2 linked regions of the Homo sapiens genome follow. The gene in region 1 interacts genetically with each later gene. Each region holds a gene or a part of one and is shown on either strand. Other genes may lie near its edges. The genes, in order: OPA1 and PHF5A.

Region 1 (3,819 bases):
GTATATATGCACACTTTTTTATTTTTAAATTATATATGTATCTGTACTAATTATTTACATTGTAAGTCAACCCTAACATAATCTTAAAGGATAAGATACAAAACATACTGCATCTAGAAGCTTCAGTACTTTCTTCCTGAATCCCAGTAGATCCTTTTGTTCATCCCACGGGATGCATTCCGCCCCCATCCTCCCACTCCCTTTGGATACCACATTACCACAGCTCTGCATCACTTAACTTTCCTCTTATGTTTTTCACCTTTTTTTTTTTTTTTTTTTTGCATTTTATGTCCTGGGGAATTTCCTTAATTCATTTCATGGTTTTACTGTTGATTTTTTTAATATTGGCCATCGCAACTTTTCTTTTCTTTTCCTTTCCTTTCCTTTCCTTTCCTTTCCTTTTCTTTTCTTTTCTTTTCTTTTCTTAATTTTCTTTTCTTTTCTTTTCTTTTCTGTTCTTTTCTTTTCTTTTCTTTTCTTTTCTTTCACACAGGATCTTGGCGTGTTGTCCAGGCTGGCCTCGAACTCCTGGGCTCAGGTAATCCTCTCACCTTGGCCTCCCAAAATGCCAGGATTACAGGCGTGCGCCACTGCATTTGGCGGCAACTTAATTTTTTTATTTTTATTTTTCCTTTTAGAGGACACCTAGCACTGAGCATTGCAACTTTTCATTTCCATGAACTTTTAAGAAAACTCTTAAAGACATGTTTAATTCTGTACACTTTCTATTGTTCTTTGATTGCTGTTTTTGAATAACAACAAGGAGTACGCCTTAGCATTTTGATGGTATCCTCTTAATAGTCGCAATAATAGTCCCCTTGGCGCTCTGTATACTCTCAAGTCTTAAATGTTTTGTATGCAGCTGTACGTTGACAGTTGAATGGTCTCGCTCCAAGTGGATCAGCAAGAACATAAAGAATCATTTAACTGGTACAGGCTGCGGCTTGTGAATTCCCTATTAACACCAAAGAAGACGTGTGAGACTCCGTACTGAAACTAAAGACGACTTGTGAGTTCCACACTGAGATCAAATAAGTCTTTATGATGGTGACAGAGAGTGGTGTCAACGCCTAAAGTTTTGGTTAATCTCTCTAAATTGAGGGGCTGACCAAAAGGGGGAACTTAACTGTATTAGACATAATTTTGAGAAACATGGGTATGTGGATGGTAATGGAGGAAATGGGTGTAGATGAGATTGCCTAGGGAGAGTGAGAAGTAGGTTAGGTCTAAGCCTTGATGAGTTCCCAACATTTCCAAGGGTAGTTGAGGATACTGAAAATGAGTGGCCAGTGAGATAGAGGTAAAGCTAGAGACTGCCCAGGGGAGAGGAATTTTCAACAATGAGGAGGTGTCAACATTGTCAGGTATTGCTGAGAGGTCAGATAAAACCAGAATTGAGCAAAATGGCCATTGGAAGCCTATGGTGCCCTCCGTAAGAGCTGTTTCGCTGAAGTGATAGAAACGGAAATCAGGCTGGGCACAGTGGCTCACTCCTGTAATCCCAGCACTTTGGGAGGCCGAGGTGGGCGGATCACCTGAGGTTAGGAGTTCGAGACCAGCCTGGCCAACATGGTGAAACCCTGTCTCTACTAAAAATACAAAAAGTAGCCAGGTGTGGTGGCAGGTCCCTGTAATCCCAGCTACTCAGGAGGCTGAGGCAGGAGAATCGCTTGAGCCCCAGAGGCGGAGGTTGCAGTGAGCAGAGATCGAGCCACTGCACTCCAACCTGGGTGACAGAGCAAGACTCCGTTTCAAAAAAAAAAAAAAAAAAAGAAATGGAAATCAGGATGGTTTGGCTTTTATTTTAATAAAATAGCTAGAGCAGGGAAATGGGGTACTTTTTTTCCCCCTTTTAAGATGAGACATAGCCAGGTGCAGTGGCTTACACCTGTAATCCCAACACTTTGAAAGGGAGGGTCGCTTGAGCTCAGGAGTTTGAGACCAGCCTAGGCAACATAGCAAGACCTTGTCTCTACTAAAATTCAAAAAAAATTAACTGGGCATGCTGGCACACACCTCTAGTCCCAGCTATTTATGAAGCTGAGGCAGGAGGATCACACTTGAGCCCAGATACGTGGGGCTGCAGTGAGCCCTGATAATGCCATTGCACTCCACGTTGGGCAACAGAGCAAGACTTCGTCTCAAAAATAAATAAATACCCTGTCTCAAAAATAAAAAATAAATATGGGAGGAGAGATTTGACTTAGATTCCTCAAAGGGCAGGAGGAAAGAGAATTCCAAACAGTGATTCACCTTTAATGGGAGAAAGATCGCTTAATTTTACATGAGGAAGAAGAGGATTGGTGGAGATACAGTAGGTGAACAGTTTTTGTATGAGGAAGTTGAACATGTGTCATTCTAATAGCTTCCATTCTCTGTGAAGTAGAGGGCAAGGTCATCTACTGAGAGTTGGGGAGGTCAAGAGAGATAAGGGGAGATTAGAAGAGCTCTTCTAGCAGAGAGTGGAAGAATGAATTGCTAAGAGAGATGAAGTAGGATTGTTAAGTAGTTTTGAGGGCCCTGTTGAGATGTGCTTCCAGTTGGGTGTGATTTTCTCCAGTAGTGCTTTATTTCCCTGGGTACAGGCAGAGAGAAAAACAATAAGGCTCATGTAGGGTTTGTATTTTGTTGGACAAGTCAAACAGAAAAGTCAGAGGACGAGGGAGTTTAGAATGTTTGCAAAAGAGTTATTGAAACGATGAACCGCATAATCTAAGGTGGTAAGTGGGTGAATAGATAAGGAGGATGTGAATAGGTAAGGAGAAGAAAGAAATATCAGATTATTGATTATTGATGGCGACTCTCTAATACAGCTATTATGCCATTTTAACCGATTAAGAAACTAAGGCTTTAGAAAATTCATAATTTGCCCTAACTGCACAGCTAGTAAGCAGTGGAAATGTGATTGGAACCAGAGTTCTTCTGACTCAATAGACTAAATGGATGTAAGGATGTAGTTGAAAGAAGGGTGAGCTAAACGTTGTGGAACCATGAGCTCTTTCTCTGGTTGATATCCCTCTCTGTAAGTGATAACATGGGTCACGCTGGATAAAACCTTGTGGTGATTGGTGACTTTCCTTTGTCCTTCCTCCTGTGCCTAGTCTGGCGAGTATCTGCCTTTCCCTTTCCTTTCTCATTGCTGCCACCTAACTTTAGGCTCTTCCCCTTACATCTGGGTAACTGAAATAAGATCACCTTTTTGTTCCCCTTCTGATTTACTTTGACCTAACATTATCTTTACTATTTTCTTTAAATTAATGTTTCATTAGTCTTATTCTACTCAGGAACTCTGTAGTTCCCCATTGCCTACGAAAAAAAGTTAAGCCTCAGCCTTATATTCAGTGACTCTTCAATTGGATATTCAGTCCAGTTTTACTCCTCCTATGAGCCTTCTATGCCAGCTCCTTGGGTCTCTTGCCCTTTCATTGTCTCAGCTCTGCACCCTTCTTTCTCTTTTTTATTCTTTTTTTTTTTTGTACTTTTTTGGTTTTCTTTTTGGTTTCTTTTTTTGTTTTATTTATTAAACCTCCATCACACTTCATCCTATGGAGTTTTGAACCACAGCAAGGTGCAGTATCATCCTGGGGCTCTGGAGGAAGTGGCAGGGAGTCCAAAATGTCACCTTAGCTTCTTATCTGGGGCCACATGTATTTCTGCATCTGCTGCTTCCCACACTCTTGCCCACAAGTGTCGCTTGTGGAAATAATTTGAGATTTACTGTCTGGCTGACCCTAGTTTCAATCTCTTTTCCACCATTTGCTAATCATTCTACCTTGGGCAAAACATAGAATTAAAAGAAAACTTCAGACAAGTTAAATT
Region 2 (3,557 bases), on another chromosome or scaffold:
CAGTTTAAGCTATCATCATATCATGAGTTTCATAGCCTCTCTAAAGAGTTGAGAGTCCTGTTATTATGTCTAATATCAGGCCTTTGTCCAGGAGAGGCAGCTAGTGCCTCATTTTTACGAGGACATGAAATATAGATTACGTTGCTTACTTGGGTTCACCTAGCAAGCTATTGGTAGGCGGCTTCCTTGGTACACCAGGCTTCAGAGATGGAAGTGCTCAATGTAATGACTCGATACTTCTTTTCTAGGAGATCCTAAAATGTTAGTGTTAGTTGCAGAGATTTTTGTAGTTGTTGATGTCTGCCCCCAAAGAAGGATATTAGTTGAGTTAGAAATGAGATGGCTAAGGACTTGATTAATTCATACTATCACCTAATATCACAGGACTCAAACTCTGACATGGGTGTTTAATAAAATCAACAGACCTGTAAGGGTTTTCCAGTTACAGCTTCCCCGGTTTTTCTCCCATCATCCCTAATCAACTGATGGAGTCATCATTTCTATATAACACAGCTTCCCAGGGGCTTCACTGAAAGCACTCAAGCTCATCAAATGGCCAGGGCAGCCTGTCATGACAAATTAGTGCATGGTCTGTCAACAGCCATCTATCTCTAGCCAGTAGTGCTCTGTACCCCCAAGACCATGTGTCAAATTAAGTGAATTAATGAAGACACATAAAACCCATTAGTCTCCTATGGTATTTAAAATGTAAGGGCCAGGCACGGTGGCTCACGCCTGAAATCCCATCACTTTAGGAGGCCGAGGTGAGTGGATCAGGAGGTCAAGAGATCAAGACCATCCTGGCCAACATGGTGAAACCCCATCTTTACTAAAAATACAAAAATTAGCTGGGCATGGTCGCGGGTGCATGTACTCCCCACTACTCGGGAGGCTGAGGCAGGAGAATTGCTTGAACCCGGAAGGCGGAGGTTGCAGTGAGCCGAGATCATGTCACTGCTCTCCAGCTTGGCAACAGAGCAAGACTCCGTCTCAAAAAAAAATAAAATATAAGGTATGGCCGAGCACTGTGACTCACGCCTGTAATCCTAGCACTTTGGGAGGCTGAGGCAGGCGGGTTGCCTGAGCTCAGGAGTTTGAGACCAGCCTGAGCAGCATGGTGAAACCCTGTCTCTACTAAAATACAAAAGAAATTAGCCGGGCATGGCGGCGTGTACCTGTAGTCCCAGCTACTCGGGTGGCGGAGGTTGCAGTGAGCCGAGATCGCGCCACTGCACTCCAGCCTGGCGACAGAGCGAGATTCCTTCTCAAAAAAAAAAAAAGAGTTTCATAGTCTACCTCAACTGTGTCATAGCAGCAGACATGGCTGAGAATCCAGCATTCTACATGAATTGCAAGTCATTGGATAGAGGGTAGGCAGGCCCTGAGCACATTCTTAGGTGTTTAGTAAATTATTGATGATAGATCAAATAGGATAATTGGTAAGATAAATGGCTAAACCATTAATCCAAAGGTTATAAAATGGTCTTTTTTTCTTTTTTTGAGATGGAGTTTCTCTCTTGTTACCCAGGCTGGAGTGCTGTGGCGTGATCTCAGCTCACTGCTACCTCCGCCTCCTGGGTTCAAACGATTCTCCTGCCTCAGCCTCCTGAGTAGCTGGGACTACAGGCACGCACCACCACGTCTGGCTAATTTTTGTATTTTTAGTAGAGACGGGGTTTTACCATGTTGGCCAGGCTGGTCTCGAACTTCTGACCTCAGGTGATCCACCTGCCTCGGCCTCCCAAAGTGCTGGGATTACAGGCATGAGCCACCGTGCCCGGCCTATAAATGATCTTTCATAAGTGCTAAGAGATAGGGAAGAAACAGTGCTGATCTGGGCCTCCCAATTAAGGAGATAACTGGTGTTTGGACACATTTACAAACCCATTTATTGAGTTCTTCAAATACTAAGATGAGAATTTGAACTCTGTGACCAATTTTTTTTTTTTCAAGAGATGGGGGTCTCGCTATGTTGCCTACAGTGGGGTACAGTAGCTGGCTATTCACAGGCATCATCATAGCCCACTAGTCTCGAACTCCTGGGCTTCAGCAATCCTCCTGCCTCGGCCTTCGAGTAGTAGCTGGGACTAAAGGCACATGCTACCACACTGGGCTTAAATTTTTTATCTTAAGTCACTCTTGGTTCAGGCTCAAAGACTTAACAACTTCTCTGTTCTGTTTTCCAGAGAGATGGCTGCCCAAAGATTGTCAATCTGGGGAGCTCTAAGACAGACCTCTTCTATGAACGCAAAAAATACGGCTTCAAGAAGAGGTGATTGGTGGGTGGCCCCTTCCTCCCCCCAACATCAGTCTGCTGCAGCTGCCAGAAAACATGCCTACTACTACCAGCAGAAAGGGAGCAGAGCCCAGAGCATCACCAGGAGTGCCTGCTAGTGTACTGGCAGCTTGCCACCCCCTCCTCTCCCTTCACCCAGACACGTGGTAGGGATGGAAAAGGATTCTTCACAGAGCACTCTGGCACACCATATCGGAGAAAACTTGATAGATTAGTTAATGGTTTTTCTTGAATTCGAGAAGCAAAGATCTGTTCTCCATATTGGTATGTTCTCCCTCAACCAAGATCTTCTAAAAAGAAATAATATTTTAGTCTTCTGCTTGAGGAACTGACTGTGAAGCGACGCCCAGTGAAAAACATGTTCTTGCAGCAGCTCTGGTGGCAGCTGTCCTTGAGGAACCTTTGGTGTGTGGTGGGAAGCTATCAGAACAAGAAATGTAGGCATTTCCCGTTTTTTTTGGGGGGGGGGTGGGGGGGCAGGGCTCTGCCCTCTTGAAAGGCATTTACTTGTTTAACACTTGTCCAGCTACAGTGGGGTACAGTAGCTGGCTATTCACAGGCATCATCATAGCCCACTAGTCTCATATTATTTTCCTTTTGAGAAATTGGAAACTCTTTCTGTTGCTATTATATTAATAAAGTTGGTGTTTATTTTCTGGTAGTCACCTTCCCCATTTAACTTTAACTCTAGGAATTTATTTTAGTCACCCAGGAATTTGTGATTCAAAACAGAGGTAGTGGGATTGGTTAAGTACTTTGTCCTCTTATTACCACTGGAAGGAATTCAAAACCACCCATACCTTTCATTATAGATAGATCAAAGTCATCTTTAGAAACGTACTATTTTTTCCTTCCTGTCCAACTTTAATTTTGAACTGAAGAGATAGCTTCCAGTTATGGTGGAGGCTGGGCACAGTAGCCCATGCCTGTAATCCCAGCACTTTGGGAGGCTCAGGCAGGCGGATCTTGAGCCCAGGAGTTCAAGACCGGCCTGGGCAACATGGCAAAAACCCATCTCTATGAAAAATATGAAAACTAGTCAGGTATAGTGGCATGCACCTGTAGTTTAGTCCCAGCTACTCAGAAGGCTGAGATGGGAGGATCCCTTGAGCCTTGGAGATTGAGGCTGCAGTGAACAGTGATCCCGCCACTGCACACCAGCCTGGGTGACAGAGCAAGACTGCCTCAAAAAAAAAAAAAAAAGATGGGCTGGGCGCGGTGGCTCACACCTGTAATCCTAGCACTTTGGGAGGCCAAGGCA

What was found.
Region 2: changes in OPA1 (region 1) and PHF5A together harm fitness less than expected from each alone (positive genetic interaction), as found in Homo sapiens cells (one large-scale study listed by BioGRID).

What each region holds. Positions count from the first base shown.
Region 1 is NC_000003.12:193,595,938-193,599,756, forward strand, and holds part of OPA1 (dynamin-like GTPase OPA1, mitochondrial), read left to right. Parts: intron 1-3,819. UniProt on the Homo sapiens protein: Dynamin-related GTPase that is essential for normal mitochondrial morphology by mediating fusion of the mitochondrial inner membranes, regulating cristae morphology and maintaining respiratory chain function.
Region 2 is NC_000022.11:41,459,117-41,462,673, reverse strand, and holds the end of PHF5A (PHD finger-like domain-containing protein 5A), read left to right. Parts: intron 1-2,186; coding exon 2,187-2,276; 3' UTR 2,277-2,957; downstream 2,958-3,557.